Linked DNA regions of Homo sapiens: region 2 is linked to region 1. The links come from fine-mapping of genetic effects on gene expression. A gene starts in region 1. The other region holds a variant in brackets. All regions are shown on one strand. Distances are between the middles of the regions.

Region 1 (4,404 bases):
ATTTAATCTTCAACACTTCTATTTAGTAGATACCTTTACTATTTCCTTACTAGCTCCATGCCTCAGTTTCCTCTTCTATTAATTGGCTGTAACAACAACAAATTGCCTTACAGAGTTACTGTTAGGATTAAATGAGTATAAAGTGCTAAGAATACTACCTGGCATAAAGAAAGTTAGCTATTACTAACAGTAGAGACTGTGGCCAGGGCAGAAAAATCAGCTTGATGTAACTTACCAAATTTTTCATTTTATGTTAATATTCATTTCAAGGGCACAGATGGAATTCTTTGGAATGGGTACTAAATCTTAAGCACTTCCCAATCAAGCTGGCTCTGCATCTCCCTAAGGGAAAAACCCAGCAGCTGGTGCTGAAATGAAAAACGTCGGAAAAAGTACCTTTAAAATCTGGATACTTTTCTGCAACTCCTCTGCCATCTTCCAAGTCCACATTATCATTATCTTTTCCTGGGATCTCTTGCAACAGCCTCCTAACTGGTTCAACAGCATCCTCCCTGGCTGCCTCTAGTTTCTCCAGGAGATTAACCTTTTCAAAAGATAGATGCACATTGGATTGCACCATGCCCATGCTTAAAACTGGTTATCCAGTAAGCATTTCGTAATACTCAAGTCAGTAACTTGGCTAAGGCTTACAGGGTCTGGCCTTGGCCCATGCCTACAGATTCACTCCCCTGACTCCTCCCCATGGTCTCTACCCAGCCACATCAGCTTTCATTCATTGTTCAACAAATATTGATTTGCTTGTCTTGTGTTAGAGAGTCATTGAGGATACATTAGCGACCAAACAAAACACAGTTATTCTACTCACAGAACTTAGATTTTACAGGGTGGGGGAACAACAACAATTGCTAGTTGTAAAAAGTATAAAAATGAAATTGAACCTGCAAATAAAAAAAGAGTGCTCACTTGAGATACAGTAGCCAGGAAAGTCTTCTTTAAGAAGGTACTATTTTAGACGTAACCTAAATGATGAAGGGAAGTGCCACGTGTTGAATGGAGAAGAGAGAATTTAGGTACAGGGAACAACCCATGCAAAGGTTCATACATGCTGGAAAGAAGTTGGTGTTTGAGGTATCCAGAGCAGATCAACTTACTGTACAGTTAGTGGGGAGTGAGGTCGGCTGACACTTGATTGTGCAGGACCTGGGAGGCCATGGTAAAGATCAGAATTCTATTCCTTTTCCCCCCTCCTCTTTTTATTTTATAAAATCTGTTATTTTAGAAAGTTGCAAGACTGGTACGATGTACACCATTATACCCTTCAACTAGATTCACCAATTACTAATATTTTGCCACATTTGCTTTCTCTATTTTTTTGCCATATCTTTTGAAGGTAAGCCGCAAACACTGTGACACTTTGCTGCTAATTACTTTAGCAAGCGCCTTCCAAAAACAAAGGCATTCTTCCACTTAATCACAAATTAATTCTCACATGCAATCAATTTAAAACTGATTCAATATCATCTAATATGTAGTTCATATTTAAATTTCCCCAGTTGTCCACAAATGTCTTTCGAAGTTTTTTTTTTTTTTTAAAAACTATGAACCAGCCAAGATTCACAAATTTCATTTGGTTTCTTTTGACTCTCGACTAAAGTAATTTTCCACTTCGTTTTTTTCTTTTTCCTGTCATGACACTGACATTTTTGAAGAGCCTAGGCCTGTTGTCTTGTAGAATATTCTACATTGTTTTTTTCTGATTGTTTCCTCATGATTAATGTCAAACATTTCTAGCACAAATACTATCGGGTGATATTAGCGATGCTAAGTATCTTCACTTGGTTAAGGTATGTCTAATAAATCTCTTCAGTGTAAAATTCTATTTTCCCTTTATAATAAGAAATGATCTGTAGGGTGATTCTTTGAGATACTAACATCCTCTTCCCTACAACCTTTCAGTTAATTGTTTGTTTTAGCATCTTGCATTCATTAGTTTTAGCATTCATAAGCTTACCTATATCAATTTTTAGACTGGCAGTTGCACAATGGGGATGCAGCGAGGGAAGTGACCCTCCGGATCCCGGGATGCCGAGCCTTTTTCTGCCCCGTAGGGACAGGACTGGGAAGTGGCTAGCCCGCCATTCCTCGGCCCGTCCTTAGGGGAGTCGCAGGACTAAGTGCAGTGGCAGTGGCCTCACCTCGGGCCTTCGCCACATCTTTATTGCCTCAAGGACAGAATTGGAGATCGGTGTCCCAGTCAACAGCGTGGTACTTATGACAGCCGCGAGAAAGCGCACTACTAAAGCCCGGCTAGCAGAGCTGGGAGGCAAACCAGACCGTCAGCACCAGGGCGGCCCACGCCTGCTTCCGCCCATTGGCTGCCCGCGTTTCAAGACCCGCCCCCATATTGGAGAGCTTCTTCCGGTAGCCACTGGAAAGCCCGCAGCGCGAGCCGGCTACGCTCCCTGGCGGAGCTCTGGACGCCCCACCTACTCCCAGCGTTCAGTGCGGTGCCCTGGCCGCCATTGTTTGAATTTGAAAACGGTAACATCGCAGTGCTGCTCGCGGGTCTGGCTAGTCAGGCGAAGTTTGCAGGTGAGGAGGTGACCCGCGGGAATGTGTGGGGAAGGAGGTGGGTGACTGCGCATGTATGGGGCCTAAGGTGGGGAAACGGCTTTGGCAATGTGGACATGTTCCGACAGGGCTCATACCCCAGTGGAGGTTACTGTCAGGAACTGGGTTGCGGAGCGATGCGAACACGGGGTACGCAGCGAGGAATGAGTCATACTAATTCGGTTACGGTTTAAATCTCGCCTCCACTGCTAATTAGCTGAGTGACGCAAGACAATTCATTTAATCTCTCTCTGTACCTTAGTTTTCTTATCAGTTAAAAGGCTGCAATGAAGTGTCTATTTCTTTCGGCTTTTGTGAAGATTAAATGGTAATGTGTAAAGTTATTAGTGCTGGCACACAGTAGGTACTAAATGTTTGCAGTTATTAATATTATTATTGTTGTTGCTTCTGTTGTTGTTGAGGAACAGGCCTGTTTTGCCACACCTAGTTTTCTGAAGCTCTGAGGTGAGCAGTTTGCTCGGCTGGTAGGTAACACGGCCTTTTTGCGGGGGGAGCCCTGTGGTAGCCTCTGTGCACTTATTTCCAGACTACTCCTACTGGTCCTTGGGGCTTGCCCTTCTAGGGTTTTGCAGTGCCAGGCTGAAGAGTTTGTGGCACAGTGACTGCTGTCATTCCCCAGTTTAGAAGGCTTTCTCCATCTCGATTCGCTCGCTGGTTCAGTGATGCATGTCTGGCACAGTTCTCTTATATTTCTTGCTAAACTACTAGTTTACAGAAGTTCACGCCTTATGGGTTAGGTAGTGTAACAGTGTATTTATCTTACATGTCCAAGACTCCAGATTTTAAATTGTAAAAATAACATAAAATACTCATCGATTAGTTGTGAAGACTTTTTTTGAGGCTTTGTGTTGTAGACCACATTCAGAAACCTCATTCAGCAACAGATTCTGCTATTTTTCACCAAAGTCTCCAATTGTGGATTCTTATTGGAGAGAGGGTAAATATGCAGTTTTCCAGTCAGAGCAGCCTTTTGAAATGAAAAATGAGGTCTTGGAGCCTGCTGTCACGAAAGATAATATTACAGACTAGGACCGACTTTTTTTTTTTTTTTTGGAATAGTATTTTCTTTATAACCATTATTTTAAGTCATTAGGTAGTCTTTATCCCTGCATAAGTCGCTGAATTTGTTATAGGGGATACAGAGTGGTATAAGGCAAGGTTCTTGCCATCAAGAAGTTTCCAGTTTAGTTGGGAAGGCCACGTATAAGTAGAAGTCATCTAAAATCGCAAGAAGTTACAGTAAGTCTGAACACTTTTAGAAATGCTAGGAAGTAGTTTGTTCATTGAAAAATGAGCATATGAACAAATACTTTATTATAACTGCTTTTAGTACATAGGAATATTCTTTTTAATTCAGCAATTTAAAAGATTTATCAACACTTTTCTTTAAACCAAAAATTATTATTTGAAGCCACAGGTGTTTTTTAGTTTTCTGGGCATTTCCATGAACTCTGTGTTATGAAATGTCAGGCCGGTACTTTAACGTTTTGCAGATGCTCCCCCCTCTGCACCCCCTTACCCATGATCTAGATCAGTGCTTTCCTTAGTCTTTTTGCAATTTAGGGGAAAAAAGTCAACTATGTTCTTGTGATACGTTTAGGAATTTCAGCCTGATCAAGGAAAAAGATTGACAACAAGATGGCAGGAATAAACAAGGATTTTGACAGGATTGTAGGCAAAGGAAATCCGTCTCAGTTTGGGACCTTTTCTAGACCAGGGTGAGGGGCCACCATCTAGAGGGGAAAGAGGGCAAGGGGAATGGGGAGTCGGGGAGGAAAGAATCATAGAGGGGCTTACATGCCTAAATGATGT
Region 2 (4,404 bases), 21 kb after region 1:
TGAAAAGTGGGTCCTAGTTTTCTCATAGAATACCTGCAATTTAGATTTGTTTGATTATTTCTTCATGATTTAGGTTTAATACATTAGGGAAGCTTTTTATGTAGGTTAAGTTGTAAATTTTCCATTGCATCACACCAAGAGCCACATGATGTCTGATTTTTCCATTCTTAGAGATGCTAAGTTTTGCTCACTTGGTTAAGATAACAGTATTTCAGATCTGTATTGCAAAACCATATTATCTGTGGGGTGTTACTTATAGACCATGTGAGTATCCTTTCACTAAGTGATTTTATGTATTCCATCAGACCTTTATTTTGCAGTCTCAAGTACAAGTGTTAAAAATATCTACCAAGTACCTATGATCCCATATCTTCAAAAACACTAATTGTTTGTCGTCTTGTTATTATGATAAATAAATAAGATTTAACGGTTGTTTTTTTAGCTTCTGTCCAATTATAGTATTTATTTATTTATTTATTTATTTTTGAGAGAGGGTCTTGCCCTGTTGCCCAGGCTAGAGTGCAATGGCACGATCTCGGCTTACTGCAACCTCTGCCTCCTGGGTTCAAGCGATTCTCCTGCCTCAGCCTCCTGAGTAGCTGGGAGTATAGGCATGCGTAACCATACCCAGTTAAGTTTTTTTTGTATCTTTAGTAGAGATGGGGTTTCACCATGTTGGCCAGGCTGGTCTCGAACTCCTGACCTTGCGATTGCCCGCCTCGGCCTCCCAAAGTGCTGGGATTATAGGCATGAGCCACCTTACCTGGCCACCTATTCCCATCTTTAATTGGCCATAACTCCGTGAGTATAGATGGAGTCCTCTTACCAGTGTCCTACAAACACTAGTAGACCTGTGTTCATGGGTGTGCTTTAATGGTGTTGACACATCACACATCACAGTACTCTTCTGGATTGCAGAAGTATAAGTAGAACGATGATGTATTAGGCTAAATACTCTCATTTTAATAATTTACCTTCATGTCCCTGAAAGCAATTATTGAACATATGTTTGGAAACAAGAATGATAGCTTCAGATGTAGTACAAGTCCCACTTTATCTGGTCACTATGTGATTAGACCGTGTTACTTGGGCTTCTGTAATGTATTAAATAGTACCTCCTCAGTGACGAAAGGAGCCTTTAATAGTCTAGTTTGGCTGGTGCAGTGGCTCACACCTGTAATTCGAGCACTTTGGGAAGCTGAGGTAGGAGGATTGCTTGAGCTCAGGAGTTCAAAACTAGCCTGGGCAACATAGTGAGACCCCATCTCTACAAAAAAGTAAAATTAGTTAGGCATGATGATGCACAGGTGTAGTCCCAGCTACTTGGGAGGCTGCAGTGGGAAGATTGCTTGAGCCCAGGATTTCTAGGCAGCAGTGAGCCATCACTGCACTACTGCACTCTGGCCTGGGTGACAGAGTGAGACCTTGTCTTAAAAACAAAGAAACAAACCAAAAAACCCAGTTTTTTTTTTTCATTTCAAAGTTGAAATTTTTGTATAATGTTGGTTAGTAAAATTTCTGAAATTACTAGAGAAAAATATTTAATGCTATAGTTTATGATGGATTATATAGTATAAATGCTTATCATATAAGATTGACTAAATATTTTAAGGAAATTCATCAAAATGTCTAATATTTGACATTTAAAAATCAATATGATTAGGTGTTGGCATGCTTTATTTTTTTCTTCTAGAGACAAAGTCTTGCTCTGTTACCTAGGCTGGAGTGCAATAGTGTAGTTATGGCTCACTGCAGCTTCGAAATCCTGGGCTCAAGTGATCCTCTTGCCTCAGTCTCCTGAGTAGCTGGGACCACAGATGCATGCCACCACCCCTAACTAATTTTTAAAAATGTTTTGTAGACATGAGGCCTTGCTCTATTGCCCAGGCTGATCTTGAACCCTTGGGCTCAGGCAATCCTCCTGCCTTGCAAAGCGCTGGGATTACAGATGTGAGTCAATGTGCCCAGCCCTTTCTTGACATTTTAATTAAAGGATTGGGACTTTTAAAAACCATTATAAAATACCTTGGTATTAGCATACATATACTTAAATTCGTTTAGCTGTAATAGCCAGCCTAAATTTTTTCAGCAAAAACTTTATCAGATGCTAACAATGATAAAACCTAATTATTGAAAACTATTAAACTTCCCGCCAGGCGCGGTGGCTCATGCCTGTAATCCCAGCACTTTGGGAGGCCAAGGTGGGTGGATCATGAGGTTGAGAGATTAAGACCATCCTGGCTAACACGGTGAAACCCTGTCTCTACTAAAAATACAAAAAATTAGCCAGGCGTGGTTTCTGGCGCCTGTAGTCCCAGCTACTCGGGAGGTTGAGGCAGGAGAATGGCGTGAACCTGGGGGGCGGAGGTTGCAGTGAGCCGAGATCGAGCCACTGCACTCCAGCCTGGGCGACAGAGTGAGACTCCGTCTCAAAAAAAATAAATAAATAAAATAAACAAACTTCCCAAGGTTTTTCCACATTCATTCTGATGTCTCCTTCAATAGTTATTATTTATTGTTTTACT[C/CAGTT]AGAAAGTATGTAGTTTAAAATTATTAAAATAGTATTATGTATTTATAGTAGAGTGAAAAAGAAAATCTAAATATAAAGATCTCTCAAATCTACCATGAATGTTAATGGATTTTTATTATATATTACTGTTTTGTAACCTGGTATTCTTTATATAAAAATAAATTGTGAAAAGTATGAATTATTAATATAGGTTATCATTGATTACGGTAGTTTATGGTAGTACCATAATTAAACCAATCCTTTAACATTGGTTGAGTTGGGTTCACTTTTTCATTATTTAAACACAACTACCATCACAAAACAACAACACTGTGATCAGCATTCATACAACCAGAACATGGGGTTATATTATAATTATTTTCAGTATAAATTCTTGGAGGCAGAGTTTCAAAGTCTGGATAGCTGTAGAACTATTTTCAAATATAAAGTTGAGACATTGGAAGATCTGTAGCTTAGAGTTTATTGTTTAATTTGTTGTTGAGTAACTTTAAATAGAAACATTAAAAAGAATATGTAGCTGTTTCCTTAATGCTACAATTTATGTTATGAATGTATAATGGTCATGTTAAGTGTTTTATTTATTGCTTTATTTATATATTGCACATTTTTCATGATTATGTATGTGTTTCAAAGGCTATAGAATTGCTGTTGACATCTGGATAGTTATAAAAGCCTAATATAAGTTTATGTAACATCTTTATTTGACAGATTAGTAAGTGGGTGTTCTTAGCAACTTCTCTGGTGTATGCAATCCTTGGGCTTTAGACTTTTACAGGCCACTTTTAAACTCAACCTTTAGCATTTACCAGAGATCTGATCCTTATGCTTCCCACCTGTGAAATATGGATGATACCAAGCTCACAGAAAGTTGTGGATTAAATGAAGCAAATATGGAACTCCCCAGAGTAGTTCTTGATAGATAATAAATGCACTAATTAACTTTACTTATTTTCTTAGTATAGCTAAACAGTGAGACGAGTTACCAAAGGTCTATTTCTAAAATGTGGAAAGGCCAACCTGATTTTTCAGTTAACAAATCTTTGCAAACATATAATTTTCAGTGAGAACATTATCACTATTAAAAAGGACACAGAATTACAATTGACTAAATGTAAAGTTTTATTTTTTGAACAGTTGGACGGTATTTCTCTTGGGATATATTTATTCTTTTATAAGAATTTTATCATTTACATGTAATAGAAACTGTTGGACTTAATAGAAGACTTGAAAAAAAAACTGATAAATGAAAAAAAGGAAAAATTAACCTTGGAATTTAAAATTCGAGAAGAAGTTACACAGGAGTTTACTCAGTATTGGGCTCAACGGGAAGCTGACTTTAAGTAAGTTATTTATTTCATGTCCAGGTAAAAATTGAGAATTTTATTTAGTTTTTTAGTTTTTTTTTTTACTTAGTTTACTTTTTATATTAGGTGGCTTCTGAATTCTGATCTCTTTATACAAGCTTGAAAATAGCTGTTACTGGTCTGGTGCGGTGGCTCACGCCTGTAATCCCAGCATTTTGGGAGGCCTAGGCAGGCGGATCACTGAAGGTCAGGAGGTCGAGATCAGCCTGGCCAACATGGTGAAACCTCGTCTGTACTAAAAATAGAAAAATTAGCTGGGCGTACTGGCATGTTCCTGAAGTCCCAGCTGCTTTCAGGAGGCTGAGGCACGAGAATCTCTTGAACCTGGGAGGTGTAGGTTGCAGTGAGCTGAGATTGTGTCACTGCACTCCAGCCTGGGCGACAGAGTGAGACTCTTGTCTCAGAGAAGAAAAAAAAGAATATAGCTGTAACTAATCCCATGCATGGTTATTTAAATTTTCTCTCTTTTTTAAATTTAAATTTTAATTTTTTGAGATGGAGTCTTGTGCTGTCA

Alleles and levels. Positions count from the first base shown, and alleles are read on the strand shown. Sizes are in standard deviations (SD) of each study's normalised expression.
For the expression in fetal neocortex of the gene that starts at base 2,463 in region 1, allele C in region 2 goes with a higher level than allele CAGTT (small effect, 0.28 SD a copy in Walker 2019).

The links. PIP is the estimated chance that this variant, and not a neighbour inherited with it, causes the effect.
Region 2: its variant is the best candidate, but not a certain one, in a credible set for the expression of KIF20B in fetal neocortex (Walker 2019, PIP 0.58).

Annotation. Positions count from the first base shown.
Region 1 is chr10:89,699,128-89,703,531 of GRCh38, forward strand. It overlaps KIF20B (kinesin family member 20B), which reads left to right and starts at 2,463. Exons shown (of 33, transcript NM_001284259.2): 1 at 2,463-2,553. RefSeq lists a silencer at 1,985-2,064 and enhancers at 2,109-2,624, 2,625-3,141.
Region 2 is chr10:89,720,238-89,724,641 of GRCh38, forward strand. It overlaps KIF20B (kinesin family member 20B), which reads left to right. Exons shown (of 33, transcript NM_001284259.2): 14 at 3,727-3,866. Among named protein-coding and RNA genes, the nearest start is that of KIF20B, 21 kb to the left of the region's middle. The variant C/CAGTT (reference allele first, on the strand shown) is at 2,526.